Linked DNA regions of Homo sapiens. The protein of the gene in region 1 interacts with the protein of each later gene in a pairwise test. Each region holds a gene or a part of one and is shown in the gene's direction. Other genes may lie near its edges.

Region 1 (7,026 bases):
TCAAACTTCTGGCCTCAAGTAATCCTCCCACCTCGACCTCCCAAAGTACTGGGATTACAGGCATGAACAGGCACTGCATCTAGCCTTTGGGGTTTATTTTTATTTCATCAAGCTTGTTGTCATTCCAAGTAAAATATATGCCTCAGTGATTTCTCTGTCATTTTCTTTTCACACTGAAGAAATATAAAATGCATATTGACCGAAACACTGGCATCATCGAAATGTTCATGGAAAAGCTACAGGATGAGGATGAGGGAACGTACACTTTCCAGCTTCAAGATGGAAAAGCAACTAACCATTCTACTGTTGTTCTCGTTGGAGATGGTAAGAATTCCGTGGAACATTAACCAGCAGGCTTTGCTACTCCCTTCAATCTAAGTACCCCATGGCACAAAAGTTGTTATTTGAAAGGTAGTAGGAATTTTTTCTTAATTGACTTCTAATGTTCAAAATACAATTTTCAGCTGGGCGCGGTGGCTCATGCCTATAATCCCAGCACTTTGAGAGGCCGAGGCGGGTGGATCACCTAAGGTCAAGAGTTTAAGACCAGCCTGGCCAACATGGTGAAACCCCGCCTCTATTAAAAATACAAAAATTAGCCAGGCATGGTGGTGTGCACCTGTAGTCCCAGCTACTTGGGAGGCTGAGGCATGAGAATCATTTGAACCCGGGAAGCAGAGATTGCAGTGAGCCAAGATCGCACCACTGCACTCCAGCCTGGGGGACAGAGTGAGACCCTGTCTCAAAAAAAAAAAAAAAAAAAATACAGTTTTCAGTTAATACTTTACATGGTATTTTATTTCATGGAAATGAAAGTGAATTTAAAGGAACACCAAATTTATTCCTAGCTCACAGGCAAGACTGCGTTTAAATACTTTCATATATAAACAAATGTTTATTGCTAAAATTCTCCAGTGAGGGAGATTGCAATACAACAAAGACTGTATGTGTCTCAGAAACAAACCATGAGACTGTTTTGCCACGTGTACTTACTGTAAATTACTAAAATTGAGAAGAAAAATATGCAAAAGTAGTGCCTGCCGAATCTACTAATCATACATTGTAACTGGATTGTAGTAAATCAGCTGCTCACTTACTACCACCCAGATTTAAAATGTGGCAGTTACGAAGGCAATGGAAAGGCCGGCCAGATCTCTGTATTTGCAACATCCAATATTATGTCACTGTTTCCTAGCTTTATGACCTTGTACAATTTATTTAACCTTCCTAAGCCTATTTCTTCATCTATAAAGATAAAAAATGAGCAGGGTTGTCACAATGTATGAGTGTTACAATAATGAATATAAATCACTTAGTGCAGTGGCTGACATGTGCATTTATACCACCCAACTCAATTTCACACTTCCTTGTTTTTCAATTTGTAGTTTTCAAAAAGCTCCAGAAAGAAGCTGAATTCCAGCGGCAAGAATGGATCAGGAAACAAGGTAAAAATAGGCCGTGGATAAAGAGAAAATTTTTAATTTTTTTGTACAAAAGATTCCAAGGTTATTTCCATAACAAATTAAAATGAATATTATTGATTATGTTAATAATGCCTAGTAAATTAAAATAATTAAAAATATTTACTGTTAAATATGTAGACATTAAAATATTTAAAAGCTAAATCTAGAATTTTAAAAATCTGACTTCAGATGTAAATCACCTTAGGACTTAAGTGTGAGCTTTGATTTTGCATTTGTGATTAATAGAGTAATTGCTAATGTCATTAAAATTTTATAGGTCCTCACTTTGTTGAGTATTTGAGCTGGGAAGTGACTGGTGAATGTAATGTACTATTGAAATGCAAGGTAAGAGGTAGATAAATTTTTAATATTTGATTCAAGGGAAATAAAATAGAATGTAGAGAAGAGGAAGCTCAATTTTTCATCTCTTCCATCTGAGCCAAAATGATAAGTGGGACACATATTTACTGTTCAATGTTACTGTAACCATTTGTTGATAAGAAAGATTTAAAATAAAATGACATAAAATATGACAAGGCAAGGTGATCATTCCTAGTCACTACTCATGATCTAGTTAGTAACACCCTAGACTTTTATCTAATTAGTAATCTCCAAAGACTCTCACGTTTTTGTTTTAAGCCAAATCTGTATTCTAAGTCATAGACCTATTCCAGAATCACTCCAGCTGCAATGTTTCGTGGACCTTGCCATGTAAATTGTGAGGCTGGTGCAACAATACCCCTGGGTATTCCCCAGCTGTGCCACTGACTCCAAGGGAGACATGTGGAAAAGAGTTGGCAGCTCACAACCAATTGTCTTATTAGGACTTTGGAAAGATTCAGGAAAAAAAAATTCTATACAGCATTCTAAACAAGTTTGTACTTTAGCATGTGGTGTGTAGCTGAGTCATCAGAAATGTTTTGGGTAAGGAACCGGTGGGTGAGGTTGGAGCGTGAAGGTCCTGCTGGCTGACAAGGACAGGTGGAAGCATAGGTGTGGCATTTGGTCTGGATTTCACAATTGTCATGATAAAAGCCAGAACCCAAGTGCCCCAGTGTCTACTAGATGTGATAAACTCAAAGAAACAGCAGTCTATCAGAAATACATATAAGGAAAATCAGTTCTAGGTTTTAGCCTCACAGGAAATGGCAACGCTGCTTGAAAAACTCTTTCTCTGGCAGCAGCTGAAGCCCTCACCTTCTCTCTCATCCCAGCTGCTCCGTCTTGCTGTCCCACTCACTTCTTCATTTGCGTGGCCCCTCCCTATAAGCTATCCTTTTTCAAAAGCCCACACATCCCTCGCCTTCTGCGCTTGCTGTTTCCCTCTGCACCAGAGGAGCTCTGGTGTCCTGTGATGGCCTTCCTCAGGACAATCAGCCCCATACCCAGATTCTGAGCAACCAAGGGCAGTCTGGAAATGGATTGTGAATATTCACACAGTTCTGTTATGCTGTCGTTCCAATGCCTGGAATGACGTTCTTTCAGCTTCTCTGACAAAATCCTTTCCCAGGCCCAGCTCAGTCATCTCTAGAAGGCCTCCCGCTTCCTCTGTCTTCGCATAGCTCTTTGTTCCGTTACTGTGGCAATTCCTGTAAATTTAGCCACTCACGTGTCGCATTACAGTTCATGGAGTATGCGCAGCGAATCATTCAGACTCACTGGAGTATCGTGGGTCTTGCTTGGCGCTAGTCTACTCAAAAAAAAAAATAAATAAATAAAAAGTAGGAGGGGCAGGGAGCGGTGGCTCATGCCTGTAATCCCAGCACTTTGGGAGGCCAAAGCAGGCAGATCACTTGAGGTCAGGACTTCAAGACCAGCCTGGCCAACATGGTGAAACCCCGTCTCTACTAAAAATACAAAAATTAGCTGGGCATGGTGGCAGGCACCTGTGGTTCCAGCTAGTTGGCAGGCTGAGGCAGGAGAATCACTTGAACCCGGGAGGCTGAGGTTGCAGTGAGCCGAGATCATGCCACTGCACTCCAGCCTGGGTGATAGAGTGAGACTCTGTCTCAAAAAAAAAAAAAAAAAAAGAACGTAGGAGGAACCCTAGCTTGCACACTGGGACCTTCCTCTCCCTCAGGAGTCCACATGTGGAGCTATGACCTTTGCCATCCCGGACAACAGAAAGCTCAGATGCAAGGAGACAAGATCCACTTTGGGCAGGTGCAGGAAGTCACCACGGCTTTAAAAAAAAAAAAAGCCCAAAAAAACTTCATGCCCTGAGGAACTAGTATCTTTTCTAACAACTGCCTAAACAGAGCTTCTGGGATCCACACAAGGGATGTGTCCAAATTTCATGAGCAATGTACTCAGCAAAGCCCAAAGCTGCGGAGTGCATTTCTAGTCCTCTGGGTCCAGACACAGCTTTCCAATCGAGGTCATTTTTATCGTAAGCAATGTCAGCTGGTAACACACTTTCTACAATTCAGGAACCAGTTTCCAGGGTCATAAAGAATGATTGTGTGTAGTGGTTTCACTACAGTTGCCAGGGTGGTTCCTATGTTTATTTATTAGCTGAAATTGTTTCACATTTTAAAACCTGTATATTGTCACGTATAATGAGACAACATTGTCTTTGTCTGTTGGTTTTATGGTTGTATTTTCTCTTTGGGGAATGGTATGTAGTTTTCACCCATTATTCAGTGGGGTCTTTGAGACGGTTTTCTTGATTTGTAGGAAGTCTTTACTTTTTCATACAATTTGAATTATACAAGAAATACATGAGTATATTCTCCTTTGTAAAAAAAATTCAAGCATTGTAGATGAAACTCAAGATCCCTTTAACCATATGCAGTTGTTTAGTCCATTTGAAATAGATGATATGATGAGAAGATTAGTGTATCTAAGTGAGTCTCCTCGAAATTGCTAAGTAATTAATTTACTTAGCATACCTCCCCTCCACATATATTTGCAATGCTTCATTTATCTTTCATTAAACTTTTAGATATAGATTGGCGCTTACTCATTCTGTTCCTTTAATAAAGCCATTTGTTTTTGTAACACAGCCTGTATTTTAATCTGATGGGATTTTTCTCCCTTTGGTTTTGTGACTTCTATTTTCATTTAAGTTTGTATGTCAGTATGAATGTATCTATTCTCTCTTTTCTTTCCTACCACATGATTTTAGAGTCAATTTTCACTGCTGGAAATAGAGATGCTATTGATTTAGGTTTATTCATTGGTGTCCACTTGATTCTAAACTCTTTTCTCAATTAAAATAGTTTTCAATTCATTCCTTTAGAAATCTGTGTCTTCTCACTCCACGTTCAGTGCTTTTTCTTTTATATCTTGCTGCATTAAGAACTATTCAACTTCACAAGAGTACACTTTCTTATTTTAAGAAAAGTAATTATGGTTTTTCTCCTAGGTGGCAAATATTAAGAAGGAGACTCATATTGTGTGGTACAAAGATGAGAGGGAGATATCAGTGGATGAAAAGCATGACTTTAAGGATGGTATATGTACCCTGCTTATAACAGAGGTAGGCGATTATAAATGTAAAATGTAATATATTAGCTCTCTACCCTCTATCTTACCCCAAAACAGTAACTAGATTCTGTATTCCTTTCATGACCAGGGGATTTATATTAGCTTACTTCCAACTGCTGTAGGAACACAAAAGCTTCTCTAACCTTGTGATGTGTGTGGATTTGTTAGGTAGCAAACCAGTATGAGCTGAATGCCACAACTCTTGCTTTTCTGAGTTGCTTTTATCCATATATGGGCAGTGAAGTGGATCATTCTTCATTTGTGCTTAAGCCTCGTGGTCCTAAAAGTACAGAGACATCAGACATGGTATTCATTTAAGGATAGATTTTTATCTACTTCTTGTCTAAAAGAGCACAGCATTTAAATATATCACTATAAAACTAGTGATCACTAGTTTTTAATAAATGAAGGCAGAGTAAAAAGTAAGGACATTAAGCCTCATATCAATTACAGCCTTGGAAGGTAAAAAGTCAGGACTGCTAGCTCGCTGGTCAAATTATTATGGAGAGGTGCATCTCTGCATCTGTGAACGGTTCACCACTCACAAGTTAGATGCTTGTTCAAAGAGTGTTTTGATGGCAATTCTGTAAATCAAGGGCCTTTAAAAATGCAGATAGCAGGTGAGGTGCAGTGGCTCACACCTGTAATCCCAGTGCTTTTGGTAGGTCAAGGCTTGAGGCCAGGCGTTCAAGGATACAGTGAGCTATAATCACACATCTGCACTCCAGCCTGGCTGATAGAGTGAGACCCTTGTCTCAAAAAAAAAAAAAAAAAAAAAAAAAAAAAAAAAAAAAAAAAAAGCAGCAGCAGCAGAAGAAGCAGAAGAAAAAAAAAAATCACAGATACCGTGCCCTGGGGCTACGAAAGGTGCAATGTGGTATATCTATTCCCCCTTAGTTTTCCAAGAAAGATGCTGGGATTTATGAAGTTATCCTGAAAGATGACCGAGGAAAAGATAAGAGCAGACTGAAGCTTGTGGATGAAGGTCAGTCCACCAACTGCTGGGGTCTGTCTTGTGTGTTTCTGCATACAGCTTACCAGAATGATGATTGAGGCCGAGCTGACGATTGAAATCATGCTGATTTTTTTTGTCCACAGATTTTGGCTTAATTGAAATTCCAACAGAGTGAACTGTTTTATTCAAAAATACCTCACTTCTAGTCATCTTCGAAATCAGAAGTGTATTTTTGATCCTTAGAGAATTTATAGTCCAGAGTCCACAAGGGATCTGTTTTCAATTTAAATCATTTTTGTTTCAACTCTATAAAAATGTTCCAGGCTCAAAAACTTCTGTGAGAAGCATGACAAAAAATAGTCCACTCTAAAGGTAGCAAGCAAGATTTATATATGAAATGTGAAGCCTTGCAGTTTTTAGCACAGCAAGAAAGCAAATTCCATTTTTCAGAGACTACTAAGGACAAATATATCATGATGATGAAAATCTACATGGGAACTCCAAACTTACAATTTTGTTCCTGAACAAGATTTTTAAAACAATATTGCTAACAAACAGCAGAAGTCTGACTAATTTCACCTTCCTACTTTGGGTGGAAGTGGGGCTAAATGTGTTTATTGGCAAAAAGCATTATCAGGCTGATGAAGGCCAGGAGACCTACATGGTTAATTCATTATGAATCGATGACACGGCTAAGAAAATGTCCTCTAATGTAAACTAAGGCTTCCTGGGAATTAAGAAGAAAGAGAATCCCAAAGCCAAGAACCTTCCTAGAAATCTCTTGTGGCCCTTTCTCTAGAATGTAAATATGGCGATTGTGACAAAGAATTCAAGGGAAAAAAAATCAAAATAAGCAGGGATCTTTTAAAACCTGATAAAATTGAACTATTTCCTCAAAGAATACTCATTATCAGTGGGTCGACAAATTCACCTTGTTTCCATTTCCTTTCAACCAGAAAGGGAATTTTTGAGAGCTAAGAATTTGAGATTTAACCTTACATTGAGAATTTTTATGCTAAAGTTTTGGCTCTGAATCTCTCTCCACAGCCTTTAAGGAACTGATGATGGAAGTATGCAAAAAAATAGGTGAGTCAAACATTTCGCACCACAACAATGCTT
Region 2 (6,255 bases), on another chromosome or scaffold:
CGCTGGTGACATGTTGCTGTATTCTTGGGCGAGTACGCTGGTGACATGTTGCTGTATTCTTGGGTGAGAATGCTGAGGACATGCTGCTGTATTCTTGGGCGAGTACATTGGTGACATGCTGCTGTGTTCTTAGGTGAGTACACTGGTGAAACAATGCCCAATCGCACGGCCAAGAGATTTGAGGAGCAGGGACATCTGGTAAGCAGACTTCAGTTTCTTTTCAGTAATGTGCCCCTCTTATGCTCTCCTCAGGGTTTAGCATGCATCCCTTAAACAAAGAAAGTAGCCTCATATAAGCAATGGTTTTGTGACTAGAGTGCCTCAGTCCATTATTGCTGCTATAAGATAATAATTGACCTGGGTAATTGATAAAGAACAGAAATGTACTTTCTCAGAGTCCTGAAGGCTGGGAAGTCCAAGATCAAGGTGCTGATATCTGGTGTGGGCCTTCTTACTGTGTCTTCACATATTGGAAGGCAGAAGGGCAAGAGAGCATGAATATGTTGTCCTCACATGGCAGAAGAACAGAAAGGGGTGAATGCCCTCTCTCAAGTCCTTCTTGGAGCAGCACTAATTCATTCCAAGTACCTTTTGTTAGGCCCCACCTCCCAACACTCTTGCATTGGGGATGAAGTTTCTAATACATGAATTTTGGGGGACACATGCAGACCATGGCATAAAGGAACCTCTCTCCCCACATGGAGTACAACTGAGCAGGGAACCCAGCTGAGCAGCTGAAGTAAGCAGCCTAAGAGGAGTGAACACTCTGCCTGGGGAAGAGAGAAAACAACAGCAGAGAGACTTGTGAGATTTTCAGAAATAATTGAGTAGGGGAAAAGATTCCCCACAAACAACAAGATGAGGATAGATTATTCTTATTTGGATAGGAAAGGAAAGGATATTGTCTGGGTGCAGTGGCTCACACCTGCAATCCCAGCACTTTGGGAGGCCAAGGTAGGAGGATCACTGGAGGCCAGGAGTTTGAGACCAGCCAGAGCAACATGGCAAGGCCCCATCTCTACAAAAAGTTTAAAAGTTAGCTGGGTATGGTGATACATGCCTATATTCCCAGCTACCTAGGAGGCCAAGGCGGGAAGATTCCTTAAGCCCAGAAGTTTGAAGGTGCAGTAAGCTGTGGTCACGTCACTGCAATCCAGCCCAGGTGACAGAGGAAGACTTCATCTAAAAAAAAAAAAGTGATCCCCAGTAATATAGTTTGCATGCTTCCTCCAAATCTTATGTTGGTGGGGCCTGCTGGGAGGTGTTTGGATCATGGGTGTAGATTTTTCATGAATGGTTTAGCACCATCTCCTTGGTGATGAATAAGTTCGAGCAAGATCTGGTTGTTTAAAAATATGTGGCACTGACCAGGCATGGTGGCTCATGCATGTCATCTCAACACTTTGGGAGGCTGAGGTGGGCAGATCACCTGAGGTCAGGAGTTCGAGACCAGCCTGACCAACAGGGAGAAACCCTGTCTCTACTAAAAATACAAAATTAGCCAGGTGTGGTGGTGCATGCCTGTACTCCCAGCTATTCGGGAGGCTGAGGCAGGAGAATCACTTGAACCTGGGAAGCGGAGGTTGCGGTGAGCCGAGATCATGCCATTGTACTCCAGCCTGAGTAACAAGAGCAAAACTCCATCTCAAAAAAAAAATGTGTGGCCTCTGTCCCTCCACCAGCTCTCTCTTTCTCAGCTGTCACCATGTGGCATGCCTGCTCCTGCTTTGCCTTCTACCATGAATAAAAGCTCCCTGAGGGCCTCACCAGAAGCTGAGCAGATGTCGGTGCCATGCTTGTACAACTAGCAGAACCAGGAGCCAATTAAACCTTTTTTATTTATAAATTACCCAGCCTCAGATATTTCTTTATGGCAACACAAAAAATACAGAAAACTGTACCAGGAATGGTATGTTGCTATAAAGTCACCTGAAAATGTGGAGGTGACTTTGGAACTGGGTAATGGCCAGAGATTGGAAGATTTTTGGAGGGCTCAGAAGAAGACAGAAAGATGAGGAAAAGGTGGGAACTCCTTTGAGACTGGTTAAATGGTTGTGTCCAAAATAATTAAAGTGATAAGAACAATGAAGTCCAGCCTGATGAGGTCTCAGATGGAAATGAGGAACTTACTGAAAACTAAAACAAAGATCACTTGTGTTACACCTTGGCAGAGAGCTTGACCATATTGTGCTTCATGCCCTAGGGGGCTCTGAAAATTTCTACTTAGGAGTGATGACTTAGGATATCTAGTGGAAGAAATTTCTAAGCAGCAAACATTCAAGCTGTGGCCTGACTGAATCTAACATCGTATTCTCACATGCAAGAGCACATAAATGAATTAAAGTTGGAATTTATATTTAAAAGGGAATCAAAGTGTAAAAGTTTGGAAACTTTGCAGCATGGCCATGTGGCAGAGAATGAAAAAGCATTATCAGGAGAGGAATCCAAGCAGGCTATAGAGCAACCACCTGCTAGAGATATTAGCATGACTCAAAAAACAAACAAAAAAACCCAAGTGCTAATAGCCAACACAATTGGAAAAGACTTCAAATGCATTTCAAAAGTGTTTGAGACAGCCCCTCTCATCACTGACCTAGAGGTCTAGGAGGACACCATGGTTTCAGGGGCTCACCCCAGGCCCTCACTGCCCTGCATAGCCTTGGAGCACTGCTCCCCACACATAGGCTACTCCAGCTCCAGCCTCAGCTCAAAAGACCCCAAATGTAACTCTGGCTTCAGAGGGTGCAAGCCATAAGCCTTGGTAGCTCCCATGTGGTGTTAAGCCTGTAGGTGCGTAGAATACAAGAGTGAAGGAGGCTTGGGATCCTCTACCTAGATTGCAGAGGATTTATGAGAAAGCCTGGGCACTCAGGCAGAAGCCTGCTGCAGGGGCAGAGCCCGCACAGAGGATATATACTAGGGCAGTGTAGAGGGGAAATGTGGAGTAGGAGGCCCACACAGAGTCCCCACTGGGGCATTGCTTAATTGAGCTGTGGGGAGGAGGACACCATCCTCCAGGCCCCAGAATGGTAGAGCCACTGGCAGCTTACATCTTGAGCATGGAGAAGCTGCAGGCACACAACTCCAACCCATGAGAGCAGCTGCAGGGTGCGAACCTTGCAAAGCCACAAGGGTGGAGTTCCCCAAGGCCTTAGGAGCCCACCCCTCACTCCAGTGTACCCTGGATGTGGGACTGGGAGTCCAAGGACATTATTTTGGAGCTTTAAGATTTAATGGCTGCCCTGCTGGATTTCAGACATGCATGGGGTCTGTAGCCCCTTCCTTTGGGCTGATTTCTCCCTTTTGGAATGGGAATGTTTACCCAATGCCTCCACCCTCATGTATCTTCAAAGTAAATAATGTGTTTTGATTTTCACAAGTTCATTGGTGGAAGGGACTTGGACTTGGGACTTTGGACTTGATGTTGGAATGAGTCAAGACATTGAGAGGACTGTTGGGAAGAGATGATTCTATTCTGCAATGTAAGGACATGAGATTTGAGGGGTCAAGGGGATAATGATACAGTTGGGATGTCCCCTCCAAATCTCTTGTCGAAATGTAATCCCCAGTGTTGAAGGAGGGGCCTGCAAGGAGGTGTTTAGGTCATGGGGGCGGATCCCTCATGACTGGCTTAGCGCCATCTCCTTGGTGATGAGTGTGTTCACTCAGATCTGGTTGTTCGCAAGTGTGTGGCCCCTCCTCACCCCTTGCTCCCACTCTCACGATGTGGTGAGCCTGCTCCTGCTTCACCTTCCACCATGAGGAAAAGCTCCCTGAGGGCCTGCCCAGAAGCTGAGCAGAGGTGGGTGCCATGCTTGTGCAGCCTGCAGAACCATGAGCCATTCTAACCTTTCCTTTATAAATTACCCAGCTTCAAGTATTTCTTTAGAGCAATGCAAAACTGAGAATGGCATGAGTAAAATATAAAGACCATGGATAATTTTGAAATCTAAAAATGTGAAATTAATATTCCTGGGGGAGTCAACACAGGAAAGATGAGAGCACGTGGGCAAAGGCTGTTGCCCATTGGTCACATGTGGTCAGCAGAGAGCAGGTGACCAGCACCCTGGAGCTTTGCGGGAAGCACCAGACAGCCTGGAGCTGAGGTTTCAATTGTAGGGGCCAAAACAAATAGGGAAAAAGACAAATTTAGTAAACAAAGAAAGTAGATGCTCAACTGAGCCAGGAGGAAGTCACTAGCAAAGAGGAAAAAAAATAGAGCTCTGGAAAAATAGCGTAAACAGTCACAAGGAAGCGACCCTGTATTGTGCCTGACCTCTGGACAGGTATATAAAGAGCCCGGGCTCAGGGGGCTCCACACCTGCACCTCCCTCTCACCTGCTCCTCTACCTGCTCCACCCTCAATCCACCAGAACCATGGGCTGCTGTGGCTGTTCCGAAGGCTGTGGCTCCGGCTGTGGGGGCTGTGGCTCCGGCTGTGGGGGCTGTGGCTCTGGCTGTGGGGGATGTGGCTCCAGCTGCTGTGTGCCCGTCTGCTGCTGCAAGCCCGTGTGCTGCTGTGTGCCAGCCTGTTCCTGCTCCAGCTGTGGCTCCTGTGGGGGCTCCAAGGGAGGCTGTGGCTCCTGTGGGGGCTCCAAGGGGGGCTGTGGCTCTTGTGGGGGTTCTAAGGGGGGCTGTGGTTCTTGTGGCTGCTCCCAGTGCAGCTGCTATAAGCCCTGCTGCTGCTCCTCAGGCTGTGGGTCATCCTGCTGCCAGTCCAGCTGCTGTAAGCCCTGCTGCTGCCAGTCCAGCTGCTGTAAGCCCTGCTGCTGTTCCTCAGGCTGTGGGTCATCCTGCTGCCAGTCCAGTTGCTGCAATCCCTGCTGCTCCCAGTCTAGCTGCTGTGTCCCCGTGTGCTGCCAGTGTAAGATCTGAGGCTCTGGACTCAGGTCTCATGTGAGTCCTGCTAACCCCATTTTCCGAAGCTGTGACCTGTCCTTCATCGTTGAGCCCCAAACCACTGCTCAGGGTCCATTCCTCACTATAAGATGAAGCCATATCTGCCTGCCTTTTCCTAAGGAGAGTCCACCCTAATTAATGTCCATTCCCTCCTAACAAATTCTCTTCCCAAGTCAACTGCAACTGCGGCTGAATCACCCCTCACCCGCTAGCCTTGCCTTTGCTTGTGTATTCAGAGGCCTGAGCTCCTGAACCCACTTGAAGTCCTGTCTTTTCCAGCTGGAGCAGCTGGGCATGAGTGTCCCACCTGCAACAAGGTGGGCGTTTAAGAGGCTTCCTTGGAGTGGCTTTGCCTGTCCAACACTCTGCTTTATCTTAAATGAAAAGTTGCAAACTAATAAAAATACCATGCCGACAAACTGAAACACATATCTTGCTGATTTCTCTGTTGTTCGGGGTCATTACTATGGCTATGGCTATTGTTTTCTTGTTCTTGTTGTGTTTCGGACTGCGTGGGTCTGATGCTGATGTTGCTGGAAGGTGCTAGGATGGGGCTGGCTGTCTCCTCTGCCTCTCATCTCCTTCCTGGCTGACCCCTCTTTTCTCAGAACCCCTCTCTTCCTAGGTCTTTCCAGCTATTGATCTGATGGAGACAGGACTGTTCCTCAGGCCAGGGCCACAGAAGCAGAAGAGGCTGCTGAAAACTCTGGGGAGTTCAGACTTGCCTCCTTTCCCTGGTCCAGGCCTCTGCCATCTTCCTTTGGGAAGTTTTTGTAACCAACTTACTCTGATTGTCTTTGTTGTTACACAGCCTGTTGCCTCTGTAAATAAACACTCCTAGCACCAAGCCAATATTGCTTTTTAAGAATTTTGAAAGGGCCGGGCGTAGTGGCTCACGCCTATAATCCCAGCACTTTGGGAGGCCGAGGCAGGCGGATCACTTGAGGTTAGGAGTTTGCGACCTGACTGGCCAACATGGTGAAACCCTGTCTCTACTAAAAATATAAAAATTAGCTGAGTGTGGTGGCACGTGTCTGTAATCCTGGCTACTTCGGAGGCTGAGGGAGGAGAATGGCTTCAACCTGGGAGGGGGAGGTTGTGATGAGTCGAGGTCGCGCCACTGCACTCCATTCTGGGCGACAGAGCAAGACTCCGTCAAAAAAAAAAAAAGGCAATATTAATAGAGTTGAATTATTTCAAGTTATTTGGAAACACAGCAATTTATTGGTGGGATATGTCCTAAGCATAGAAAGAACACAAAAATAAAATTCCTAAGCTATTTTTAGTAGTCATGGTGGCAGCAGTGGTGTCGTTATTCTGCTGTGAATGCTGTATGGAAAAAGCAAATGCATAATT
Region 3 (7,026 bases), on another chromosome or scaffold:
TTCTCTGCAGAGCGCTCCTAGGAGGGAATGATGTAGCCTTTGCCTTTGATGGGGAGGAATCTTGGTGAGGGGTAGGGGGTGGGGTGGACGTTTCTTAATTGCACACTCCCCTTCTATGCAATTCTGGTAAGCGCTCCCACAGGGGACACTCCCAGTGAGGGTGTCAGCCTGCTCTACCCAGGCTTGGAGGACTCCTCCTCCCCAGCCTCTCACTGGGACATCCGGATCCTGAAGGGGACTGTGGGTTTCTGTCCTTCTCTGGTACCCAGTATCCGATGGAGAAGGTGCCTGGCGCCCGGATGCCAGTGCAGATACGGGTCAAGCTGTGGTTTGGGCTCTCAGTGGATGAGAAGGAGTTCAACCAGTTTGCTGAGGGGAAGCTGTCTGTCTTTGCTGAAACCGTGAGTACCTGCCAGCCCCCACCTCTGCCTCCCACTACCTGGAGCTGCCTTGGCCCCCTGCTCACGCCTCATTCTTCCTGGCCCTCCAGTATGAGAACGAGACTAAGTTGGCCCTTGTTGGGAACTGGGGCACAACGGGCCTCACCTACCCCAAGTTTTCTGACGTCACGGGCAAGATCAAGCTACCCAAGGACAGCTTCCGCCCCTCGGCCGGCTGGACCTGGGCTGGAGATTGGTTCGTGTGTCCGGAGAAGACGTGAGTCGTGGGCAGGGAGGGCTGGGGAGAGCCAGGCCAGGCTGCCCACCATGGACTGCACCCTCCTTTTGGAGGCAGGCTGGGGTCTGTTGATCCCTCTGCTTGCTCCTGCGCTGGTCATAGGAACTTCCGCTGAACTCTCCCAGGACTGAGGCTTGCCAGGCAGCAGTCCTTTCCAGAAGGGCTTGGATGGTCAGACAGTCCTTTATTCTTTTCATTAAAAAAATTTTTTTTTTTTTTTGAGACAGAGTCTCACTCTGTTTGGAGGCTGGAGTGCAGTAGCATGATCGCAGCTCATTGCAGCCTCAACCTCCTGGCCTCAGGTGATCCTCCTGCTCCTGCCTTCTGAGTAGCTGGGACCACAGGCGTGCGCCATCATGCCTGGCTAATTTTTAAATTTTTTGTAGAGACAGGGTCTCACTGTGTTGCCCAGGCTGGTCTTGAACTCCTGGGCTCAAGTGATTCTCCCTCCTTGAACTCCCAAAGTGCTGGGGTTACAGGCTTGAGTCACCACGCCTGGCCAGGCCTTTATTCTCTCTCTTTTTTTTTTTTGAGACGGAGTCTCGCTCGGTCGCCCAGGCTGGAGTGCAGTGGCGCGATCTCGGCTCACTGCAACCTCCACCTCCCGGGTTCACGCCATTCTCCGGCCTCAGCCTCCTGAGTAGCTGGGACTACAGCTGCCTGCCACTACGCCCAGCTAATTTTATTTTGTATTTTAGTAGAGACGAGGTTTCACCATGTTAGCCAGGATGGTCTCGATCTCCTGACCTGGTGATCCACCCGCCTCGGCCTCCCAAAGTGCTGGGATTACAGGCTTGAGCCACCGCGCCTGGCCCAGGCCTTTATTCTTAAGCCTTCGTTCTGTGTGGTGCCCACTGGGTGTGGCCCCATCCTCAAAGACACCCAGGACAAGCCCATCACCTCCTCTGCACGTGAACCCTTCTCGTGTCTGGGCTGCTCACACATCCCCTGAGTGGTCCTTTCTCTGTCAGTCCCTCTCAGATCCACGTGGTCCTTCTCCATGTCTATTGCCGCCTTTGCCTCTCTCTCCTCTCCTTTTCCTGTTTGGTTGGCATTCAACTCTGTGGTGTTTAACTTTTTTTTACTTAAAAAAATTGAAGTATAACATATTATACAGTCAAGCACTCAAATCTTATGAGCACAACTTGATAAAACTTTATATTTTTACAACTATCCATCAAGCCTCGACTGCCCATCCTCCTTTTGCTGTCTTCAGTTGGCCCCCTTTTCTCTTTATCTTGGGTGATGTGCTCTTTTGTCCCCGATTATCTCGGAGTGTCCCTAGGTCTCCTTTTCACTGTCTGCCTTGGTCTCTTGCACCCTTCCCTCCCCACCCCCCATGTCTCTCATTGTTGGTTGGGGTGAGGCTGACATACGCAGGGGTGCTCTCCAGGAGGTGGTAGATGGATGGGGGCCTCTCCAGCAGAGCAGCAGAGACTCTGACCAGCCCTCCTCCACAGTCTGCTCCATGACATGGACGCCGGTCACCTGAGCTTCGTGGAAGAGGTGTTTGAGAACCAGACCCGGCTTCCCGGAGGCCAGTGGATCTACATGAGTGACAACTACACCGATGTGGTAAAGCAGGCACTCAGGGGCAGGTGGGGTCTAGACATTTGGTCTCTGGAGGCACCTGGTGCTCAGGGACAGGTGGGGCATGTTTCTCTTTGCCCCCTCTTACCTCCGGAGACTTCATGCTTTGATTTCCAAAGGGAAAGTGTGGGGTGCAGTGGTGGCAGGACACTGACTCTGGGGCTCTGCCCTTCTGTCTGGGACTTGGAGGACGTATGTTGTCAAGTTGCATCTTTTCTGCCTCCCTGCTCACATCTGTCTGTCTCCTCTCATTGCTTGCCTGTTCGGTTTTGTCCTTAGAACGGGGAGAAGGTGCTTCCCAAGGATGACATTGAGTGCCCACTGGGCTGGAAGTGGGAAGATGAGGAATGGTCCACAGACCTCAACCGGGCTGTCGATGAGCAAGGTGGGCAGCATGTGGAACCTGGCGAGCCCCATCCCCGGCAAGCTCTCAAGCCATGCTGGTGGGGACGACTGAATGCCAGGGCCCTTCACTGGGCTATTTCACCCAGGGACGCTTCTTGAAGGCACCCCCCACTCCAAGCTGCAAATTAGGACCGAGAGTCAGTGGCCGCTCAAGAGTCTGTGACCATGCCCCAAATTCAGAGATGGTCCCAGGAGAGATGGGGGGAACTGCCAAGCAATGAGTGACCGGTTCCCCCTCCCCCAGGCTGGGAGTATAGCATCACCATCCCCCCGGAGCGGAAGCCGAAGCACTGGGTCCCTGCTGAGAAGATGTACTACACACACCGACGGCGGCGCTGGGTGCGCCTGCGCAGGAGGGATCTCAGCCAAATGGAAGCACTGAAAAGGGTGAGCCAGCAGGTGGTGGGTGGGAGTGAGGCCTGTGGTCACAGGTGGCCAGTAGGCACAGATGCAGACCTGCATGCCCACAGACACATGCATGTGTGCACACAGCATGCACAGACACCTGGGACTCACTGGAGGTGCTCACAGATCACACCCAGCATACCCAAAGATCACACCCAGCATACACACAGATCACACCCAGCATACCCAAAGATCACACCCAGCATACACACAGATCACACCCAGCACACAGATCACACTGGGAACACCCACAGATCACACTCAGCACACACACAGATTACACCCAGCACACACACAGATCACACCCAGCACACAGATTACACCCAGCACACACACAGATCACACCCAGCACACAGATCACACCCACAGATCACACCCAGCGCATGCACAGATCACACCCAGCACACCCAAAGATCACACCCAGCACACACACACAGATCACACCCAACACACCCACAGTTCACACTCAGCACACACAGATCACACCCAACACACCCACAGTTCACATGCAGCACACCCACAGTTCACACCTAGCACACACAGATTACACCTAGCACACCCAGCACACGCACAGCTCACACCCAGCACACCCACAGATCACACCCAGCACATGCACAGATCACAGTCAGCACACACAGATCACACCCAGCACACACAGATCACAGTCAGCACACACAGATCACACCCAGCACACACACAGATCACACCCAGCACACACACATCACACCCAGCACGCACAGATCACACCCACCACACACAGCTCACACCCAGCACACACACATCACACCCAGCACACGCACAGATCACACCCACCACACACAGATCACACCCAGCACACACAGCTCACACCCAGCACACACACAGATCACACCCAGCACATGCAGAGATCACACACAGATCACACCCAGCACACCCACAGATCACACCCAGCACATGCACAGATCACAGTCAGCACACACAGATCACACCCAGCACACACACAGATCACAGTCAGCACACACAGATCACACCCAGCACACACACAGATCACACCCAGCACACACAGCTCACACCCAGCACACACACATCACACCCAGCACATGCACAGATCACACCCACCACACACAGATCACACCCAGCACACACAGCTCACACCCAGCACACACACAGATCACACCCAGCACATGCACAGATCACACACAGATCACACCCAGCACACCCACAGATCACACCGAGCATGGATCACATCCAGCACACCCAGCACAGATCACACTCAGCACACACACATTACACCTAGCACACCCACAGATCACACCCAGCACACACACAGATCACACCCAGCACACCCACAGATCATACCCAGCACACCCACAGATCATACCCAGCACAGATCACACCCAGCACACCCACAGATCACACCCAGCATGGATCACACCCAGCACACCCAGCACAGATTACATCCAGCACACCCAGCACAGATCACACCCAGCACATGCACAGATCACACCTAGCACACCCACAGATCACAACCAGCACAGATCACACCTAGCACACCCACAGATCACACCCAGCACACAGAAATCACACCCAGCACACCCACAGATCACACCCAGCACAGATCACACCCAGCACACCCACAGATGCTTATAGACAGACACACTCAGATGCCCATGATTACAGAAGGTCACATGCAAAGTTCACACACCAACCTGGAAGATGGAAAGACACCCATGGACTTTGTCTTAGGCTGGGTTTCCTGGAGGCAGAAGCTAAGACGTAGATTTGGCTGCACATTATTGGGGCAGTGCCCTCGGGAGTGTGAGGAGCAAGGATGCAGCTTCAGGCAGGTCAGCTGTGGCCTGAGCTGTGGCCTGGGGAAGTTCACAACTCGGAACACCACAGAATCCTCACCTGGAGGCAGGGCTGGGCTTTGTATCCTCTCAGCCATCTGTCTAGGCTTGGGGTTGCTGGGGTGAGCTGGGGCACATACCTATCTCTTCAGTGAGGGGGTTTCCTTTAGCATGGGGGTTCCCTGGAGCAGGTGGCTTCTGGGAGCTGGGAGCTGTCGATGCTGATGGCAGCTGGGGATGGGTGCGCCACACGTGTACATTGGCTGGTGAGGGGGCTGGGGTGGGCCCCGTTGGCATTCATGCAATGCAAGCACACATGCCCACAGTTGAGCACAGATGCCATGGGATACTGTCAGGCCCATCGTGCACATGGATGAGCACACGCAAGCACATGCACTTGCTCCGGGGTCACACAGGGGCCTGTGCACTGCACAGCCTCTGTGCCCGCCTGTCCTGGACCTTCTTGGTCTATGATCTTCCTTCCTAAACACACATTTGAATTTTGGCTCAAGAACCAGACCTCCCTTAGTCCAGGAGTAGCCTGTGGCATGACCTAGGTTCCTTCCTTTCTCCTTGGGGGCAGAGAACCTAGAGAGGACTCTTGCTGGCTCCAGGGAGGGGCAAGGCTTTTGGACAACCAGCTGTTCCTGGTGCTGTGAACCAGACAGATTCAACTTTCTCCCTGAAGGGGCACCCAGCAGACAGAGGCAAAGCCTGCCCAGGCTCATGTGCCTTGCCCACCACCCCACAGCCAGCATCCTTCCTGGAGAGTGGCACAGCTGGCCTCCAGGACTGGCCCTTGTCACTGTGCTCCTGGCCCAGACCTGAGGTGGTGTCTGACAACAGTGCCAGGTCACCCTCTCCCAGGAGCTGAATGGCAAGGGGGCTCCCGGGACTCCCTTCAGGCCCAGGAAAGGGACCCCATGAACGAGGTACAGGGGTGCCTCCATAGCTGAGTTGGGTCTAGCTCCCAGGGGTGAAATTGGCTGTGGTTGGGAAATAGGATCTTCCTTTTACCTCTGAGCTGCAGACCCACTACAGGATGTGAAGATGAAAAAGGAAATGACAAGAAAACTTTGGATTCATGAAATCCACCCAGAATTCAAACAAATAAGCAAGTTAAAAGCCCAGTGTTTTCGTCACTGCGTCAGCCTACCTTCCTTTCTGGCTGTTTGGTTCTTCCCGCAGCCCATGGAGCCTCCTCTCCCCTCCTGATTTTTCTTTTTCTTTTTTCTTTTTTTCTTTTCCTTTTGAGATGGAGTCTCATTCTGTCACCCAGGCTTGAGTGCAGTGGCGCAATCTCGGCTCACTGCAACCTCCACCTCCCAGGTTCAAGCAATTCTCCTGCCTCAGCCTCCCTGGTAGCTGGGATTACAGACATGAGCCACCATGCCTGGCCTCCCCTCCTGATTTTCTGACCTGGGGTTCCTGTGGCTGCAGAAAGCCCCTCTCCTCTAGGTGGCCCTCCCAGGTTTTCCCACCTGGAGGGCACTAGTGTGGGAGCTGGTGGGGAGTTGTCATGGAAGACAGGAAGGCAAAGGTGGAGCCGAGCACAGAACTCCCCCCAGCCTTCCCACCGGCCTCTGAGTCTGCCCCTTCTCTTGTGCAGCACAGGCAGGCGGAGGCGGAGGGCGAGGGCTGGGAGTACGCCTCTCTTTTTGGCTGGAAGTTCCACCTCGAGTACCGCAAGACAGATGCCTTCCGCCGCCGCCGCTGGCGCCGTCGCATGGAGCCACTGGAGAAGACGGGGCCTGCAGCTGTGTTTGCCCTTGAGGGGGCCCTGGTATGTGGGGCTGCACTTGTCCTGGCTTGGGTAGGGTATATCTTGGTTTCCCAGGGCTGTTCGGGCTGATGTGGGAGAGGCACAGGGACCCCAGGTTAGGACTTTTGGATGGAACGCTGGCTGGTCATCCTGGCGTCAGTACCTGTGGGGTGGCATGTGGGGAAAGCAGCCCCAGTCTGGGTGTTCTTCTAAAATGAAAAAGCTCCTTCCTTGGCACTGAAACACTTGCTGCTACTACTTTGAGGTGTCAAGATGAAAGCAGAGGGGAAGATGGCCTTGGCCGTCTGGCTGGCCTGTGCCTGGCTGGCTGGTGTGAAGATGGGCGAGGAGGCCCAT

The links.
Region 2: the proteins of MYOM1 (region 1) and KRTAP5-7 interact in binary tests that used the Homo sapiens proteins (3 or more experiments, as listed by UniProt).
Region 3: the proteins of MYOM1 (region 1) and DYSF interact in binary tests that used the Homo sapiens proteins (3 or more experiments, as listed by UniProt).

The regions. Positions count from the first base shown.
Region 1 is NC_000018.10:3,083,956-3,090,981, reverse strand, and holds part of MYOM1 (myomesin-1), read left to right. Parts: intron 1-179; coding exon 180-324; intron 325-1,385; coding exon 1,386-1,445; intron 1,446-1,740; coding exon 1,741-1,808; intron 1,809-4,830; coding exon 4,831-4,944; intron 4,945-5,849; coding exon 5,850-5,937; intron 5,938-6,954; coding exon 6,955-6,993; intron 6,994-7,026. UniProt on the Homo sapiens protein: Major component of the vertebrate myofibrillar M band. Binds myosin, titin, and light meromyosin. This binding is dose dependent.
Region 2 is NC_000011.10:71,522,924-71,529,178, forward strand, and holds KRTAP5-7 (keratin-associated protein 5-7), read left to right. Parts: upstream 1-4,343; 5' UTR 4,344-4,377; coding exon 4,378-4,875; 3' UTR 4,876-5,746; downstream 5,747-6,255. UniProt on the Homo sapiens protein: In the hair cortex, hair keratin intermediate filaments are embedded in an interfilamentous matrix, consisting of hair keratin-associated protein (KRTAP), which are essential for the formation of a rigid and resistant hair shaft through their extensive disulfide bond cross-linking with abundant cysteine residues of hair keratins.
Region 3 is NC_000002.12:71,567,682-71,574,707, forward strand, and holds part of DYSF (dysferlin), read left to right. Parts: intron 1-269; coding exon 270-401; intron 402-490; coding exon 491-657; intron 658-2,138; coding exon 2,139-2,253; intron 2,254-2,547; coding exon 2,548-2,653; intron 2,654-2,917; coding exon 2,918-3,060; intron 3,061-6,516; coding exon 6,517-6,690; intron 6,691-7,026. UniProt on the Homo sapiens protein: Key calcium ion sensor involved in the Ca(2+)-triggered synaptic vesicle-plasma membrane fusion.